Homo sapiens: one gene and its partners. The protein of the gene in region 2 purifies or fractionates together with the protein of the main gene of each other region. This does not show direct contact. Each region holds a gene or a part of one and is shown on either strand. Other genes may lie near its edges.

What was found.
Region 1: the proteins of LRSAM1 (region 2) and HSPBP1 fractionate together in Homo sapiens (co-fractionation; one large-scale study listed by BioGRID). This does not show direct contact.
Region 3: the proteins of LRSAM1 (region 2) and DENND6A fractionate together in Homo sapiens (co-fractionation; one large-scale study listed by BioGRID). This does not show direct contact.

What each region holds. Positions count from the first base shown.
Region 1 is NC_000019.10:55,262,983-55,266,709, forward strand, and holds part of HSPBP1 (hsp70-binding protein 1), read right to left. Parts: intron 3,305-3,727; coding exon 3,149-3,304; intron 3,001-3,148; coding exon 2,904-3,000; intron 2,408-2,903; coding exon 2,296-2,407; intron 1-2,295. UniProt on the Homo sapiens protein: Inhibits HSPA1A chaperone activity by changing the conformation of the ATP-binding domain of HSPA1A and interfering with ATP binding. Interferes with ubiquitination mediated by STUB1 and inhibits chaperone-assisted degradation of immature CFTR.
Region 2 is NC_000009.12:127,454,510-127,458,009, reverse strand, and holds part of LRSAM1 (E3 ubiquitin-protein ligase LRSAM1), read right to left. Parts: 5' UTR 3,483-3,500; coding exon 3,411-3,482; intron 3,013-3,410; coding exon 2,956-3,012; intron 2,435-2,955; coding exon 2,390-2,434; intron 695-2,389; coding exon 617-694; intron 1-616.
Region 3 is NC_000003.12:57,654,963-57,658,689, reverse strand, and holds part of DENND6A (protein DENND6A), read left to right. Parts: intron 1-954; coding exon 955-1,010; intron 1,011-2,194; exon of another isoform or gene 2,195-3,727.

The DNA of each region.
Region 1 (3,727 bases), on a different chromosome or scaffold from region 2:
TTCTGCGGATACAAACCCCAGAAACCATGAAAGAAAGCACTGAGAGGTTAAACTACGTAATATAAAAAATACTCCCATGGCAAAAAAAGAAAAAGAAAACGAGGTTGGAGAAAAATATTTGTGATTCATAGCACAAATGGCTAATATACTTAACTCTTAAAGAGCTTAAAAAAGTCATTCGCAAAAACCATCACCCAATAAATAGATAAGTGGGCAAAGGATGAGAACGAACAGTTCACAAGAAAGAGAAAAGATGCCAAATTTCACTCATGGGAGAAATGTAAACTGGACTGGAGTACTACTTTTCAACAATCAGTTTGAAAAAAGGTCAAATGGTTCATCGAGGCCACTTTGTCCTGACCAAGATTTGGGGAGTTGGGCACCCTCATGACTGGAGTGTCAATGGTTGAACTTCTATGGAGAGCAGCTTGGTGATAGCTAATGAAACGGCCCTTAACCCTTTAACCTTCACCTTTAACATACCTGACCCCAGCCATTTCCCTTCTAGAAATTGTTCTACAGACATATGTAATAACATATACAAAAGGTTATTCTTTCAGCAGTGTTTGTCATAGCGAGAGTGTAGAAACAACCTGCATATCCATGCTACAAAAAAGAGCCCATCCGCACTGTACAGCTGCAAAATGAAAGAGCCACAGGCGAGACATGCAATGCCCACAAAGCAAGGGGCAGAACAGCCATCACAGCACGGCAGGCTTATTTTGCATAACATAGAGAAAAAGGAGAATTCACATGCACCTTTGCTCGTGTGTACCTAATATTTTAAGAAGGACACCTGAGCAACTGGGTAGCCAGAAGGAGGGGCAGGAGAGAGACTTTTCACTGTTTACCCTCCTGCGGGTCTTGTATTTTCAACCATGTGACTACGGAACCTATTCACAAAGCATTAGTAAAATCTGTTACAAATCTAATTTGAATGTTTCCACGGGTGTATACATAAGTCAAAACTTCTCATGTAGTACACTTTTTTTTTTTTTTTTTTTGAGATGGAGTCTCACTCTGTCGCCCAGGCTGGAGTGCAGTGGCGCATCTTGGCTCACTGCAACCTCCGCCTCCCCGGTTCAAGCGATTCTCCTGCCTCAGCCTCCTGGGTAGCTGGGATTACAAGCACCTGCCACTATGCCCAGCTAATTTTTTGTATTTTTAGTAGAGATGGGGTTTTACCATGTTGGCCAGGCTGGTCTCGAACTCCTGACCTCATGATTTGCCTGCCTCGGCCTCCCAAAGTGCTGGGATTACAGGCGTGAGCCACCATGCCTGGCCATGTAGTACACTTTCAATACATACAGACACTTGACAGTGTCTACACAGGAATGAATCTAATAGAATATAACGTCCCAAGGAGGTGGGTGCGTTTGCTAAGCTCGGCTTTGCTGAAGCACCAGCATTGATTCATTCACTTCAACAAATTAATGCATTACTTAATCAGTTAACTATTTGAATTTTAATTAGTTGTGATTTAGCATTTGTTACTTATCTAGTTATCTAATGAGTTATTTATTTGCCCCTTATCTAATTAAATATCTGATGACTTGTTATTTATCACTTGTTATTTACCCAAAATAATTGGTTATTTTTTGCCATTTGTTATTTCTTGTCAATTTAATGAAATAGTTAAATCATTAAGACATTTGAGTGATATTATATTCAATTTACATTTACTTAATGTAAAACAACTGTATTGGGTAATTTAGATAATAATTCAATGATTGGGCAACACTTTAAGAATCTCCAAGCTCCTGTCTCCTTGCTGTCTCTCCTACTCTGACACAGCACGGGACGAATGCTAGGCATGAAATAAACATCTGCTGAATGGAAGATAAGTGAAATGCACGAGAACACGAATGAAAGCCTGAACCAGCGGACCCAGGAGCCCCCAAGGGCAAGGACTGGCTGGCTCTGCCCCTACTAGGGTCCCCACTACCACACTTGGTCTAACCTGGGGAATTCCTCACCCCCCAGGCCCCTCCCCCTCACACCTGGTCCTCCTCACACCCTGTCCCTTCCCCAACTCACCTGGTCCTTCTGGAGCCGCTGTCCCCTCCCCCGGCACACGATCCTCCTCGAACCCCATCCCCTGCCCCTCACACCTAGTCCTCCTTGCACCCCGTCACCTCCCCGTGTACCTGGTCCTCCTGGAGCCCCTGTCCCCTCCCCCTGGCACCTGATCCTCCTCGAACCCCATCCCCTCCCCACACACCTAGTCCTCCTGGAGCCCTTGTCCCCTCCCCCTTGCACCTGGTCCTCCTTGCACCCCGTCCCCTCCCCATGTACCTGGTACTCCTCATGCTGCTGCAGCAGCTGACAGCGGTGGCGGAGGAGCTCCTCCAGGCCCAGTTCCGGCTCCCGACACTCGCGCACACCCTGCGGAAAGTCTGTCACCAGGCTGTGAGGGACATGACAGCGGCCCTTAGGACCTCCCTCTAGAGGCCTCACTGACCCAACCCTATCGCCCGCCCCGTCCCCTGGCTCACTCAGGAGCCTGGCAAGTCGCTGCCCCACAATGGGCCTCCATTTCCCCATCTGCGGAATGGACCTCACGCTGCCCCTGGCCCAGGGTGGGTGCTGAGGGGCTCAGCACAGGGCCTGGTGCGTGTCAACTCTGGTGTGCTGTTGAGAGCTCCAGCATCATCTGATTAGACACTAATCCACTGGTGGGGGCGTGTACAGAAGCCTCTCTCCCTCCTGCAAGGCCTCTGTGCCAGCCCTACTGGTGAGGAAACTGAGGCTCCCTGACTCCTGCTCCTTTCTGGCCCCACACCCTTCCTCTCTACGGGAAGGTCCCAACTCCTGAGTCCCTACGGGCTGATTCCTGAGCCACCCCCACCTTGAGAGGACGGGGCCCCCACCCCAGGCCCCGTCCTCTCAAGGAGCCAAAGTACCTGCACAGGGCTCCAAGCACGTGCTCGTGGAAGGGGCTGTGCTCTGTCCGCACCAGGGCCACCAGCTGCTGGACCATCCCCATGGAGCACAGGGTCCCTGGGGGGAGGGCTGCAGGGGTCAGAGGGGCAGCCCCACCCATCTCCTATGCCCTCCCCGGGATGCCTGTTCCTCCCCTTCTCCCACACCTGCACCCACCCCAGGGCGTCTGCTCCCCACTCCTGCCCTCACTCAAGGGCTGCCACACCTTTGTGTTCAGGGTGGCCCACCAGCAGGTTCTGCAGCAGGAATGCTGATTTGACCTTGAGCTTCTGCACCTGCTGCTGCATGGCCCTCATCAACACAGAGAAGCCGTCCAGGCGGAGGAACTGCAGCAGCCCAGCCTCCTGCTCTCGGACCAGACCTGGGAGAGGGGGAAAGGTCCTGAGCTTGCAGTCACCACCACCACCACTGTCATCACAAGCACCATCACCAACATCATCACAACCACCATCACCAACATCATCATCACCACCATCACCACTATCTTCACCACCATCACAATCATCATCATCACCATTCTCATCCTCACCACCATCACCATCACCACCATCCTCACCACCACCACCATCACTATCACCATCACCACCACCACCATCACCACCACCATCATCACCATGACATCACCAACATCACCATCACTATCACCATCACTATCACCATCACCACCACATCACCATCACCGCCATCATCATCACTACCATTAACAATATAATTATCGTCAATCATCGTCACCATCATCACCACCAACCACTATCATCCCTTGCCATGGGCCTGCATATGCAAG
Region 2 (3,500 bases):
TTCAACCAAACTCAGGTGCAAAATATTAAAAAAAAAAAAAAGAAAGAAAGCATCTGTAGTGAACACATACAGGCTTTTCTCTTGTCATTATTCCCTAAACAATATAGTATAACAGATTGGGCCTGTGCTGCTGGGCTGACACCTGTGCTGCCGGCCTCCTCTGAAGGTGCATATCACTCTCCCAAGCTCAGGTCTGCGCATAACAACCCTGGGCTCACACCTCCCACATGTTGTGAATGCCTCCCAGCCCATCCGGGGAGGAGCTCACAGTCAGCAGGGAGTCCTTCCAGATCACCTGCGCGTCCCTCCTCTTCCTTCTTGCCTGGGACCATCAGTCTCCTCGCCCTCTGCTAGCTGACTCGCCATGAGGCTGTCACTTGGCTTTCCTCCTGGCATGTAAACTCCCCAGGGACAGGGCCTGTGGCTGGTCATCTTTGTCACCCTAACCCACACACAGCCCACAGAAGTATCCAGTAAACCATACTGATCAAATCCCAGACTGACTGGTAGATTGGGCCCCTCTGACATGCAAGAGGCAGCCCAAAAGGAGCAGGCGCTCAGCTGCCGCGTGGAACCCCATGCAGAGCCCCAGCTGCCTGGGAGGAGGGCCCAGTACCTTGATGGTTGCCAGACTCAGGAGGCTGCAGGATTTGGGAAGCAGGGAAGTGAGGTGATTCGTGTGGACGATCAGCACCTGTGTGGAGAGATGTGCGGCCATGCTGGGCTGAGGAAGAGCAGCAGGCAGGGCAGGCTAAGGGCGTGGGAGCCAGCCCAGCGCCGTGCCACGCCCCACCATCTTGCTCTCCCAGACACCACCACGGGGATGCGGGTCAGTATCATGAACTCTCCCAATGGGGAATCTAATGCCCTTCCTTAAAACCTGGATCTTCAAGGGTGAAAGAGACCTTAGAGGTCTACATCTTCCTTCCATCTGAGAAGGGATCCCCCTGCAGCCATCCTGATCATAACCTTCCCAGCACCAGCGTCTTCACGTGGAAAATAGAGAATAATAAAGTGCTTGCCTCCCAGGGCTGCCATGATGTTAAATAAAAGCTCATGCGCAAAACTTCCAGGGCTGGCAGAGGGGCCAGGGCTCAGTCCAGGTCATCTACTGCTATTTTTCCTTTTCTTTTTTTTTTTTTTTGAGACCAACTCTTGCTCTGTCGCCCAAGCTGGAGTGCAGTGGTGTGATCTCAGCTCACTGCAACCTCCGCCTCCCAGGTTCAAGCAATTCTCCTGTCTCGCCCTCCCGAGTAGCTGGGACTACAGGCGCATGCCACCACACCCAGCTGATTTTTTTTTTATTTTTGGTAGAGACCGGGTTTCACCATGGTAGCCAGGATGGTCTTGATCTCCTGACCTCGTGATCTGCCCACCTCGGCCTCCCGAAGTGCTGGGATTACAGGCATGAGCCACCGCACCCGGCCAATCTACTGCATTTTTCTTAGGCATTGACTGCGGCCCAACACTTCCAGCACAGACTGGGCGTGGTGGCTCACACCTGTAATCCCAGCACTTTGGCAGGCTAAGGCAGGTGGATCACTTGAGGTCAGGAGTTCGAGACCAGCCTGGCCAACATGGCAAAACCTCATCTCTAAAAATACAAAAATTAGTTGGGCATGGTGGTGGGCGCCTATAATCCCAGCTACTCAGGAGGCTGAGGCAGGAGAATTGCTTGAACCCAGGAGGCGGAGGTTTCAGTGAGCTGAGATTGCACCACTGCACTCCAGCCTGGGTGACAGAGCAGAGCGTCCGTCTTCAAAAAAAAAAAAAAACAAACAAAACTTCCAGCGCCAAGGAGCTCACTACTCTGTTGGCAGGGAACACTTTTTTTTTTTTTTTTTTTTGCATATTCTCATTTAGATACTTCACTTAGAGCGCTTCTACCCATCTGCATTCAAAGCTGCAATGCTCTGCTGAAAAATCATTCACTCCCCTCTGAATCTCCCCTGGGTGACCAGAATAAAAGGCGTGAGTTTCTATTATTACTAACACCGGGGTTCATAAGCCTTTACTACGTGGTAGGCATGTACACTCAGTATATTTCTATCTCTATCTAGCTATCTACCACTCATTTAATTCTCACAATACCTCAGGAAGGAGAACTATGAATGTCTTCATTTCACAGGGGAAGAAACTGAGAAGTAAGAGTTTAAGGAAGTTGCCCAAGTCATGAAGCCAGTGAGGGCAGAGTTAGAATGTGACACAGGAAGGTCCAACCCCAAAGCCTACTCTCCTATCTGTGAAAACACCTGCTGCAGGCCAAGAGCATAAGAAGCAGAGAGAAAGGAGGTGTCTACGCCGGGAAGACAGCTCCTCAAAGTCCCTTGTGGGTTCAAACAAGCAGACATGCAACAAGAAAGTCTCTGAAGATGAAGCTCCATCTTACCTTCTTCTGCAGAACTTTGCATGTTGCAAAAGCTCCAAATGGAATCTAAGATAAGATAAAGAAGAGTAAGTGTCTCCCCTCCTGCCAGTTTTTAGCTTGTTCTCTGAGTGGCATTCACGTGAGGAAGAGACAGGCAGGAGGTGAACAAGGGCAAAACGCCACAGCAGGTGGCAGTGCTGAGCCCAGGGGCAAGGCTGGCAAGCAGTGGTGTTGGGGATGTGGCCAGCCCTTCCCTCGGTCAGCTGGCAGGAGACTGCCCTGCCCCACCCACCCTGTCCCCATTGTGAACCCCTTCAGGGGCTGGAGAATGCCAGGCCCTTCCAGCAATGTAGGAGTCTATGGGTACATTTTCTACCTAGACTCCTTGACTCTTGGAGACTACGTTATATTGAGGCCAAAGGATCATCTTCAATTATTTTGGACGAGAACAAAATCTAAGGAAACATCTCGTGACTAGAGCTTCTGGCCTTTCTAAAGCCCCAGTCCACCTCTGTCTTTCCTAGGGACACAAGATCCAAGAAAACGGGACAGATCCAATTCACAGCCCAACACTATCCTCAGTTTACCTCTGAGAGCTCACATTTAGAGATGTCGAGAATGTCATCTGCCCCAGCTTCTTTTGCCTAAGGATAAAAAGAATTTTTAAAAAGTATTAAGACAAAACACCTTTGCAGAGTGGACAAGCCAGGCAAAGAACATAAATGTAAGCAGCTGCAAAGGACCATAGACACTATCTGGTTCCACTGGTCCATTTGGCAGGTGAACCAATGACCCCTGCTTTCCCAGAGCTTGAGGCCCAGAGGGATGAGGAACTGAAAAGCAATGACAGTGCGCTCAGTCTACAGGGGAGAAGCACCCTTGGCAGGGGGCCTCATCTGTTGGGTCTAAGTCAAATATTTCTTCTGTGGGTGGGGGAGGCAGATGGGAAGGAGCACGGCTTGTTGGGGGCAGTGCGGAGGCCTACTCCATGGGGACCGAGGAGGAGATGGGATAGAGTTAGAGGAAACCCACTTTCCCTCACCAAACACATCTGGTACTCCAGGCGTTTCCGAGCCTCCTCACTGGGTTTCCGCTTCCGGAAGAAGAGCGGCATCCTTCCCTTTTCCCAGAG
Region 3 (3,727 bases), on a different chromosome or scaffold from region 2:
GGTGTACATTTTTTTGTTGTACTTTGTTCTTTGAATTGAATAAAAAACAGATAGCAGTAGGAAAACTAGTATTTCTGTTACATATCAACCAGTATTAATGGGAGTATTTCATACAGTTGCAAATTAATCTGATTTACTATTGGATTAATTTTTTCTTAAACAAGGACAGGGTCTCCCTCTGTCTCCCAGGCTGGAGTACGGTGGCACAATCGTAGTTCATGCAGCCTCCAATTCCTGGGCTGAAGTGATTCTCCCACCTCAGCCTCCTAAGTAGCTAGGACTACGGTGCATGCCACCATGCCTGGCTAATTTTTAATATTTTTTGTAGGGATGGGATTTCACTCTGTTACCCAGGCTGGTCTCGAACTCCTGGCATCAAGTGATCCTCCTTCCTGGATTCCCAAAGTGCTAGGATTACAGGCATGAGCTTGGGATTAATTCTTTTTTTTTTTTTGAGATGGAGTCTCGCTCTGTCACCTAGGCTGCAGTGCAGTGGTGCAATCTCGGCTCACTGCAAGCTTCACCTCCCGGGTTCACGCCATTCTCCTGCCTCAGCCTCCCGAGTAGCTGGGACTACAGGCGCCTGCCCCCATGCCTGGCTAATTTTTTGTATTTTTAGTAGAGATGGGATTTCACCGTGTTAGCCAGGATGGTCTCGATATCCTGACCTTGTGATCCGCCCGCCTTGTCCTACCAAAGTGCTGGGATTACAGGCATGAGCTGTCATGCCTGGCCGGGATTAATTCTTTATCCATGTTATCTGCATTATTTTTGATTTTCTGCTATATTAGGGAATATTGGTAAGACCCATTCCCTCTCTGGCTGTTCCTAAAGGAAGAGAATCTTAAAAGTTAGACAGGGCAGCATGGCTTATTGATCATGAGATAGATATATTTTAAAATTTTCCATAAATTTTGGTGATACCTTCTTTTATTTTTCTTTTCTATCTCTCAGGTGGACACAAATATATCTGTTATTTTACCTACTGTTCATGAGGTGGATATTTTCAGGTAAAGAATAAAAAATTTTATTAACTGACTTCCTTTTGCTTTGTGGTGGTGGTGTTAATTTATTTAAAAAATGAATATTATATAGGATGTGGAAAAAATTGGAAGAAAATAGTTATGTTTTACATGTTATAAATCAATGGTTCATCCCTGGGTACATGTTATAAGCTTTGACAATTAGGGAAATTTAAATATAGAATATGTATTATATGTAAAAATATTTTTGTTTGGTTTAGTGTGAGAATTATATTGTAATAATGTTAGAAAACATGCTTTTTTAAAAAAGAGATGCATTTTATTTGGGAGTGAAATGTCATGATGTTTGTGTTCTATTTTAAAATACTTCAGTAAGAAAAAATAGATGACGTGAAAAATGGCAAATATTAATCATTAAATCTGAGTGATATGTATATGATGTTTCTCACACTGTTGTTTTTACTTTTCTGTATGTTTGAAAAATGTCAACATGGAAAATGAAAAAACAAAAAAGAGATACTGTTAGCACTTAGAAAAGAAATAGAGGAAAAATAAAAAGTAATGTTTGTGCCTTTACCCAGAGCAGCTAAATCTTTGGATTGGTACCCAAGTTCTAGTTCCCCAGGTAGTTCTGATGTATAGGCCAGCTTGAAAAACCACTGCTATAAATGAGCAGTTACGAAATGCTCAAAAAGTCATGAAAGACTTAAAATGGATTTTTTTGGTGGGATCTTTTTTCTTTTATTTTTGAGACAGAGTCTCACTCTATTGCCTAGGCTGGAGTGCACTGCTGCAGTCTTGGCTCACAGCAGCCTCCACCTCCCAGGTTCAAGCGATTCTCCTGCCTCAGCCACCCAAGTAGCTGGGACTACAGGTGCACACCACCATGTCTGGCTACATTTTTGTATTTTTAGTAGAGATGGGGTTTCACCATGTTGTCCAGGCTGGTCTCGAACTCCTGACCTCAAGTGATCCACCTGCCTTGCCCTCCCAGAGTGCTGGGATTACAGGTGTGAGCCACTGCGCCTGGCTGACCTTTTTGTTTGTTTTTTATGACTTGTAAACTACATGGAATACTGCTTCAAAAGATTGGTTAGTTTAAAAAAAAAAAAGATTGGTTAGTTTTATATGTTGCTCTAGCACAGTACAGTCATCCTATTTCTAGGTATTTATTCAATAAAAATGAAAATGTGTCTACATGAAGACCTGTATGCAAATGTCTATATAGTAGCTTTATTCATAACAGTATAAAACTATACACAACCGAAGTATCCATCAACTGGTAAATGGACAAACAAAATGTAATACATGAATGCACATGGAATACTATTCAGCAGTTAAAAAAAAGAAGGAACAGTTGATACATGCAACAATGTGAAAGACTTCCAAAAGCATTATGCTAAGTGAAAGTTTCCAGATAATTTAAAGATACTGAATGATTCCATTTATATGATGTTCTGGAAAAGATAAAACTATAGGGACAGAAATCAGATCAGTGGTTACCTGGGGCTGGGGGAGGAAATCTACTACATAAGGGCTGCGGGCATTTCGTGAGGTGATGGAACTATTCTAGATCTTTGGTAAGGGTAAATTTTACTGCATATAAATTATAAATGTGACTTTTAAAACAAATTAATTTTCTTAAAAAGTACATGTTATGGCATTATTAGGATGAAAAGAGGGAGTGTCCCCAAAATGAATAAATATTACAGGCAAAATATACTAAGAAGAATGTGTACATTTCTCGTTTTGATACTTGACTCATTAAGGAATAATTTGCAGAATTGGCATAAATTAATATAGAGTTCAATTATTGGACATTTTTTCTTTTGAACTTCTGGGTATGAGTCTTACGCTTTATTGTTTGTTACTGATTATCTTAGCTTTTGTGGTAATCTTGCATATCCCATATCTGAAATGGTCAGAATCAGAAGTGTTTTGGATTTTGGACTTTTTTGCATTTGGGGATTTTTGCATATACATAATGAGATATCTTGGGGATGGGCCCAAGTTTAAACACAAGGGTCACTTATGCTTCATATACACCTTATACACATAGCCTGAACGTAATTTAAAAAAATATTTTTAATGATTTTGTGCATGCAACTAAATTTTGATTGCATTTTGACTTTGACTTACCTTGAGGTCATAAGTAGAATTTTCCACTTGTGGCATCATGTCAATGCTCAAAACCTTTTGGATTTGGGAACATTTTGTAATGTAGATTTTCACATTAGGGATGCTCAACCCTTAGTTAATTACCCCCATCACTAACACCTTTGATTAGCACATGTCTTGTCTCCTGGATATGAATTACATAATATTGTTTTAAGAGTGGGGCAAGTAAGTTTGTTGTTTTTAAATTCTTGTTTCCCGCCAGATGCAGTGGCTCACGCCTGTAATCCCAGCACTTTGGGAGGCCGAGGCGGGCGGATCATGAGGTCAGGATTTTGAGACCAGCCTGACCAACATGGTGAAACCCCGTCTCTACTAAAAATACAAAAACTAGCTGGGCATGGTGGCGGGCCGCCTGTAATCTCAGCTACTCAGGAGGCTGAGGCAGGAGAATTGCTTGAACCCAGGAGACGGAGGTTGCAGTGAGCTGAGATCGTGCCACTGCACTCCAGCCTGGGCAACAGAATGAGACTCCATCTCAAAAAAAAAAAAAAATTCTTGTTTTCCAAGAGATGAGAAAACCAAATTTTGAAAAATAATCTCACACAGTGATAGTATTATATCAAGCA